Linked DNA regions of Homo sapiens. The protein of the gene in region 1 purifies or fractionates together with the protein of each later gene. This does not show direct contact. Each region holds a gene or a part of one and is shown in the gene's direction. Other genes may lie near its edges.

What was found. Proteins that work in one complex are often made in the same cells at the same time.
Region 2: the proteins of ANKRD34C (region 1) and NIPSNAP1 fractionate together in Homo sapiens (co-fractionation; one large-scale study listed by BioGRID). This does not show direct contact.

What each region holds. Positions count from the first base shown.
Region 1 is NC_000015.10:79,294,469-79,299,505, forward strand, and holds the end of ANKRD34C (ankyrin repeat domain-containing protein 34C), read left to right. Parts: coding exon 1-424; 3' UTR 425-3,771; downstream 3,772-5,037.
Region 2 is NC_000022.11:29,571,114-29,574,613, reverse strand, and holds part of NIPSNAP1 (protein NipSnap homolog 1), read left to right. Parts: intron 1-3,500.

The sequences.
Region 1 (5,037 bases):
CCTTGAATCCGGCAAAGGACCTTTAGATAGAAAGAAGCTCAACAGCTCTCACTTGTCTCTTTTCCATGGCTCTCGGGAGTCCCTGGACACTGTACCTAGCACATCCCCCAGCTCAGCACGCCGCAGGCCGCCACATCTTCTAGAACGACGAGGTTCTGGAACTCTGCTCCTTGATCGCATTTCTCACACTAGGCCTGGCTTCCTGCCGCCTTTAAATGTGAATCTGAACCCGCCTATTCCAGATATTAGATCTAGCAGCAAACCTTCTTGCTCTCTTGCTAGTGGCTTAAAATCTATGGTTCCTGTTGCTCCAAGTTCACCAAAGAGAGTTGACTTAAGAAGTAAAAAGAAGCTCCTCAGAAGGCATTCTATGCAAATTGAACAAATGAAACAGCTGTCTGATTTTGAAGAAATCATGACCTAGAAGCTTTAGAAAGGCTTAAAATAGTCAATATAGTTTATGGAAGGGACTATGGATGAGACTGCTTCCTGATCATTCCTTAATGTTGAACTGTGGCCACTTCAGAAGATATAAAAGCAGGATGCTGCTTCACTTCTGAGAATAATCCCTGGGTTTTTATAGGCCTACTTGAAAAGAGCTCAGGATAATTGGGTTTTGAAGATAAATTTTTAAAAATTCTGCAAAGGAAGAAAGCCTTTGGAATTTGAAGGTAACACAGCAAGTACAATGATGTAAGCTGGGGACATCAGTAGTTTTCTATCAGACAAACAGAAAAGAATTTAAATCAGGAGGTAGTATTTGGAGTATGTCATTTGTAATAAATCTATAAAGTGCCTACATAGAAAACGAGGCTTTAACATTTGTTAGAATGTACAAAAGCCCCAAACCAAACCCTCAGTGACTAAATCTGGGTGTCTGGGTTCTATCTGATGGAGTAGAAGCAGAATTCCCCCCATGGAAGAGGCTCTGGCCTGTGGGTCCTGGCTCTGACTCTGTCAGGGCACTGTAAATCATGGTGTGGTTGAACTCGTTCAGTAATCCAGTAATATATTTTGTTCACATACTAATTTGTATGTGCTCTGAGTACCCAAATATCCCATCTATGTGGCCCCTGAATTATGATATGTCATAGTAGCTGATGCCTTAGAGATAAATCTTGCTCCAGAAATGAAACTTTCCCCAGACCCGTCCCCTGACACAGGCTCTTGTATTGAAATCTTGTGAAAAACAGTCAAGGTTAACTAACTTGGAGTTGAATGTGATACAATTATAGATTAAAAATATCAGAAGCATTTCCAGATTATTCTTAAAAGTTGATGAGATCTTCCCAAACCAGAATGACAACTGAGGATGAGATGTGCATAGATTAAATGGTAAAGTGGGTGGTTCTCAGGTGAGAAGCAGTGAGGACCATTCATTTTGCAGCCTAAAAATTTTAGGGGATGCAAACTGTCATTTCCCCTTCAGTTATGTAAATAATTGAAGAAAAATCTGGTTTCTTCTCTTCCTGATCTATCTAGGTGAGAAGAGATTTGTAGAAATAACCTGCACAACCCTTTTAGGCTGCTTTGAGCAAATCCAAGAAGGAAAGCAGAGACTTAGCACATTTGGTATAATGTAGCCACATCTTAGATGAATATATTTTTGGTTATTTCCATTTATGTTTCCTCTCGTGCTGCTGAGATCTATTTGCTCTATGGTTAAAAAGTTCAATAGTTCCTGAGGACAGCATCATATAGAGGAAAGAGGGCTTTGAGTCTGACATATTTGGGTTTGCATACCAGTCTTATCATTTACCAGCTGCGTGACCTTGAGGAGGCAGCTTAACTTCTCTTAGTCTCTGTTCCCTCATCTGTAAAATAGGATTAGTAGTGCTGCACCTTACAAGGTTGTGATGAGAATTAAATGACACAATGTATGAAAGTGCTGCCATTGTGCCTGGCACAGGTAGAAGTCACTGGATAAGAAGTAGCTAATTTTAATGTATTTCTTGAGACTGCTGAAGCAATATCTCAAATAATACATACGCTACACAAAATGGAATAAAGTTTCTCTGGAAAAGTTCAAGTATCTCTATGAGATCCCCAGTTATTTTTATAAGTACCGATCTCTAAACTCATGTGTAAAGTAAAAAATTCTGCCATATAAACTCTACATATTATATAATTTTTCTATAACTACCTTTGCTAGAAATTTATCTGAATATTCCAAACAAAAGTGTTAATGATGGTTAAACAAAAAAACTCGGTGTTGTTTGGAGGGCTGTCTGTCCTGTGTGTTGTAGGATGTTTAGCAGCATCTCTGGCCTCCACTCACTAGATGGCAGTAACACCCTCTCCCCAGTTGTGACAACCAAAAATGTCTCTAGACGTGGCCAGATGTCTCCTGGGTGCATCACCTTCGTTGATCTCTACTGCTAGACCTATCGTATATGTCAAGAACAACAAAGCTGTATGGAAATGTGAGTGCTGACTGGACAGCTATGCCCTCCTGTTAACTTAAGACAATTCAAATTGTGCTTTAGTAAGAGGACTAATCAATACTAGTGTTGGGCCTTCAGGATTCTTGGCAAACACACTCCAACATGTGTGCTAATGGTCTCATACTTTGTAGGAAGGGAAGAAAATAAGGAAAGCACATAAACTAGCAAAAATCTATAGCTCATGAACTTGGTTTAGTGTGGACAACCCTGTTCTTTTCAGAACTATTTAATCATTAATAGTTCTTACCAAGTAGAAGTGATCCCAGGCAAAGAAACAACTTTCCAATGCATTCAAGAGAGAATCATACGGACAACCATCATTCTCAGCAGCTCATTAAATGCAAATACACACACGCAAAGAGAGAGAGAGAACACATTTTACATAGTTTTCCAGCTGTTGTTAGTGTCACTTAAAACTGATCTCTGCTGGTAGTATTCAGTTGTGAGTATAGCAAGACACTGCATAGGAGCATTTTTTTTCTAAACCTTTAGCTAAGATTTGGAAACCCAATATTTCCTAAGTAGTGAATGTGGTCTATTTATAGTAATTAGCTTAGGTGACACACCAAACATGATGAGTTGCTCATTCAGGATAGCCGGTCCATTGCACAAATGTGTAATATCAGGTACTCTCATGCCACTCATTGCCTGCATCAGTCAGTCATGACCTTTGCATCAGCCTTTCAATAGACAGTCATCAGGCTAGTATCTTATCTCATCACTACTTGACGATGAGTTCGCCGAATTAGACTGTTCTATACCAGTACAACAACCAAAATACTTTCTCATAGATTATGCATAAATACGCAATTTTGTCCATGTCAATGAACCTAACAAGAATGCTTTTTAAAAGTATATTTTAGATTCAAACATGCTTTCTAGATCAGAGGTTAACTTGTCTTTTTGAAATCCTGGAGTCACTTATAAGTTAGCTGCAAACTGTAGTTTCGGTAATTCAACTGCTTAAGCATTTCTGGACTGTTTATCAAAATATATTACAGAATGTGAGACTAAAGTTTAAAGTCTGGACCTTTGGTTTAATTTCTAGACTTTCCAAAGCTTTTTTTTTTCTTTTTAAAAAGCCCATTGTCAACTCTCTTAGAACTTCATCAAGTAAATGGTACCTTGCAAATGTAGGTTGTGTCTGACCTTCTTTCTTTTTGTGTGTTGGTGCCTCAGATGTATCATGTGCTGCTTGAACTGATTCTCTACAGTGTTCCTTCCTAGTCTCAAGCTGATGATGTGCTCAAAGATGTATCAAAATCCATGTAATGACACCTTTTAGATGTTTCTAATATGTCAATAAATGATATATTGCAATCCTTCAGTAGTATTTTCCACTTTTTCTCAGTGAAATCTCAATTATAAGTATTACCTTTTCCTTAAGATGAATTGACGTGACTGCCTAGTAACATCAACCACACACCCAATATTTTAGGAACACATAATTTACAAAATTAGATTTTAATCACACAAGTATTATGGTATCTTTCCTGGTTAAAAAAAGAGCACAGCCCAATGAATGAGAAGGTGCATTGCCACTCTGAGGGGTGAGTTTCTTTACTTGGCCCCTGCTGCTCAACCGCCCCAGGGCTGCACCTGCCATCTGCTAATGGCAAGGACTTATCGTCAGTGGATATCCCTCCTTGGGCCCTATTTCTAATGTTCATAAGTGTTAATGTAAGCTGATTTCCATGAGCTCTTATTCAAGGGCAGGACAGCGAGTATAAAGTGAATTAGCTCAACAGTCTCTGTGGTCTCTTAAATTCTTGTACTCTGTACTTCAAATTTTATTCAGACTCGCTGATTCTCTGGACTGTTCCAATCCAGAACAGGTACTCTGGAGATTACCCTTAGGTTAGCTCCTAGACTACTGAAATAAACTAAGTTAAGTAAAAAAAGGGACTAGTTTTAGGATGTTTGTTCCCCTACTTCTAACTTTAGGCAAGAGACCCATATTGTTTCTAGATCCTTTGAGGAGAGATTATGAGGCACTGAACAGTCTAATTCAGATTATGCCCAAGATTGAATGCACTCCCTCCTCCAAGGTCAGCCACTTTGACCTTGTCACTCATTCTTTCTCAAGTATCTCCTTGAGATCCCCAGTTATTTTTATAAATATTGATCTCTAAACTCATTTGTAAAGTAAACAGTTCTGTCACATAAGCTCTACATATTATACCATTTCTATAATTACAATTGCTAGAAATTTATCTGAATATTCCAAACAAAAGTATTGATGATCAAACAAAACAAACTTGGAGTTGTCTGTCTAAAGGCTTAGAAGTTTGGGGTTTTTTGAGTGGAACTTGCTCCTTTTCAGAGGAAAACCTTAGAGAGGAGTGGCATATGGTGCATCTTCCTAGGCAGGGCTGTGTTAAGCATGGCAGGAAGGCATCTGAGTCACCTGCCTTGAAGAAACCCTGCTGCTTGGATAATGAACACATCAGCATGGTTATTAATGAGCATGAAGATCAACGGGCTCCCTGAAATTGAATGCTATGAACTGTTGAAGACTTCCACAGAACAGAGCGGGGAGAGGTCCACGATGACTGAGATGACTTTCTTGTCATCTTTGTTAGAAGGAGATGAA
Region 2 (3,500 bases), on another chromosome or scaffold:
AGAGACTGAGTTTCACCATGTTGGCCAGGCTAGCCTCAAACTCCTGACCTCAGGCAATCCGCCCGCCTCGGCCTCCCAAAGTGCTGGGATTACAGGCATGAGCCACCGCACCAGGCTGATAATTGTCTTTTTGCTAATGAAGCAGATGCATGTACAATGATCGAGAGAGTTCATGAATTCAGAAATGCTTAACACACTTTAAAATCTTTATAAAAAATTACAATGAATAAAGAAAAATTTAGCCATCTCCTATTCCTCTTTCCCAGGTAAGCAGTATTAACAGTTTGGGACAAGTAATTTATTTTCTTTTCTTTTTCTTTCTTTTTTTTTTTTTTTTTTTTTTTTTTTTTTTGTGAAGATGGAGTCTCACTCTGTCATCCAGGCTGGCGTGCAGTGGCGTGATCTTGGCTCACTGCAGCCTCCGCCTCCTGGATTCAAGCAGTTCTGCCTCAGTCTCTCGAGTAGCTGGGACTACAGGCACACATCACCACTCCTGGCTAATATTTTGTATCTTTTTTTAAGTGGAAATGGGGTTTTGCCATGTTGCCCAGGCTAGTCGTGAACTCCTGAGCTCCAGCAATCTGCCCGCCTCAGCCTCCCAAAATGCTAGGATTACAGGCATGAGCCACCATGCCCAGCCTCTTTTTTTGTTTTGTTTTGTTTTGTTTTGTTTTTTGAGACAGGGTCTGCTCTGTTGCCCAGGCTGGAGTGCAGTGGCCCGATCTCAGCTTGCTGCAACCTACGCCTCCTGGGTTCAAGCGATCTTCCCACCTCAGCCTCCTGAGTAGCTGGGACTACAGGCGCACTTGACACTCGACCACACCTGGCTAATTTTTTTTTTTTTTGAGACAGAGTTTCACTCTTGTTGCCCAGGCTGGAGTGCAATGGCCTGATCTCGGCTTACTACAACCTCCACCTCCTGGGTTCAAGCAATTCTCCTGCCCCAGCCTCCTGAGTAGCTGGGATTACAGGCATGCACCACCACGCCTGGCTAATTTTGTATTTTTAGTAGAGATGGGGTTTCTCCATGTTGGTCAGGCTGGTCTCAAACTCCCGACCTCAGGTAATCCACCCGCCTTGGCCTCCTAAAGTGTTGGGATTACAGGCGTGAGCCACCGTACCCAGCAATTTTTTTATTTATTGCAGAGACAGGGCTTCAGACTCCTGAGCTCAAGTGATCCGCCTGCCTCGGCCTCCCAGAGTGCTGGAATTATAGGCGTGAGCCACCATGCCCGGCCCATTTCTCATTTTTATGCTTATACAAACATATCACCACTTTGGCCCAGCGCAGTGGCTCATGCTTGTAATCCTAGCACTTTGAGAGGCCGAGGCAGGTGGATCATGAGGTCGAGAGATCGAGACCATCCTGGCCAACATAGTAAAACCCCGTCTCTACTAAAAATACAAAAATTAGCTGGGCGTGGTGGCACACGTCTGTAGTCCCAGCTACTTGGGAGGCTGAGGCAGGAGAATCACTTGAACCCGGGAGGTGGAGGTTGCAGTGAGTGGAGATCATACCACTTTACTCCAGCCTGGCGACAGAGCAAGACTCCATCTCAAATACAAACAAATGAACAAAACAAAACAAACATATCACCACTTTAAGATTATTTTTAAAAAGAAATTTTTTTTTTTTTTGAGACATGGTCTCTGTCACCCAGGCTGGAGTGCAGTGGCCTGATCATAGTTCATTGTAGCCTTGATTTCCTGGGCTTCATGCGATCCTCCTAAGTCTCTCAAGTGGCTGAGACTACAGGCATGTGTCACCACACCCGGCTAATTATTGTATTTTATTTTATTTTATTTTATTTTTTTGAGATAGAGTCTCACTCTGTTGCCCAAGCTGGAGTACAGTGGCAAGATCTTGGCTCACTGCAGCCTCAACCTCCCAGGCTCAAGTGATCCTACCACCTCAGCCTCCCAAGTAGTGGGACTACAGGCACATACCGTCATGCCCAGCTAATTTTATTTTTTGTAGAGACACGGTCTCACAAGTTTCCCCAGGCTTGTCTCATGGCCTCAAGCAATCCTCCTGCCTCAGCCTCCCAAAGTGCTGGGATTACAGGCATAAGCCAGTCATATTTATTATTTTTTTTGTAGAGATGGAGTCTCATTTTGTTGCCCAGGCTGATCTTGAACTCCTGGGCTCAAGTGATCCTCTGACCTCAGCCTCCCAAAGTACTGGGATTACAGGCATTTAGCCATCGTGCCCAGCTGATTTTATCCGTCCCAATGGCTGCTCCATATTTTGGAAAAAATTGATTGATTTTTTATTTGCAAGACATTTGTCCTTTTTTTTTTTTTTTTTTTTGAGATGGATTCTCGCTCTGTTGCCCAGGCGGGAGTGTGATGGTGCGATCTTGGCTCACTGCAACCTCTGCCTCTCAGGTTCAAGCAATTCTCCTGCCTCATGCTCCTGAGTAGCTGGGATTACAGGTGCACACCACCACGCCTGGCTGATTTTTGTATTTTTAGTAGAGACAGGGTTTCGCCATGCTGGGCAGGCTGGTCTCGAACTCCTGACCTCAGGTGATCTGCCTGCCTTGGCCTCCCAAAGTGCTGGGATTGCAGGCGTGAGCCATCACACCCAGCCTAAGACATTTGTCTAACCACATAAAAGTCTTAAAAAGGGATAGGGCAGCCGAGTATTTGTATTGTAAAAATACGAAAATTACCTGGATGTGGTGGTACGCGCCTGTAATCTCAGCTACTCAGGAGGCTGAGGCAGGAAAATTGCTTGAACCCGGGAGGCCGAGGTTGCAGTGAGCCGAGATCGCACCACTGCACTCCAGCCTGAGCAACAAGAGCAAGACTCTGTCTCAAAAAAAAAGAAAAGAAAAAAAGAAAAGAAAGGATAGGGCTTCCTGTGACCTCACTTGGAAAAAACAAAAGAGAAAAAAGAAAAAAGGGATAAGGCTTGCTGCCACTCAGGGATCCCTCTTGCCAGGCTCCCTGGCTAGGAATTGTCTCCATTGGGAGACTTCCTTTTCAGGCCTGGCTGCAAGCTGCACCAAGGCTGTGGAGCGGGAAGATTGGTAGTCTCAAAATAAGCACCCCTGCCTCCTGCTGGGACCTTGGGTATGTGTTTAGGATGGGAGTGCAGTTCTGGTCCAGTAGGAGCTGGCAGCAGACCCTCCACTGCCCTTAACCACAGTGCTCATGGGCAAAGCACATAATCATATTCATTGATCATTCATTCATTCATTCTCAGTATCCTATGGAGATGGGCAGAGCAGGTGTTGGCTGGATGAGTGAATGCATCTTGCTTTGCAGTGCCTTTTACTCCCTCTATCTGCCAAACCAGTCCTGGGGACTGACCAGCTCATCTCCTCCTCTGTAGAGAGTCTGCCCAGGTTGCCAGAAGCAGAGTTAAGGCTAGTTCACCTGGGCTCTTCCAGAGACCCCTCCTATAATTGTGTCCCAAGGCCCATTTCTCCTAGTGGACTATGAGCTCCTCAAGGACAAAGCTTATTTGTATTTGGCTTTCCATGTGTGGGGTC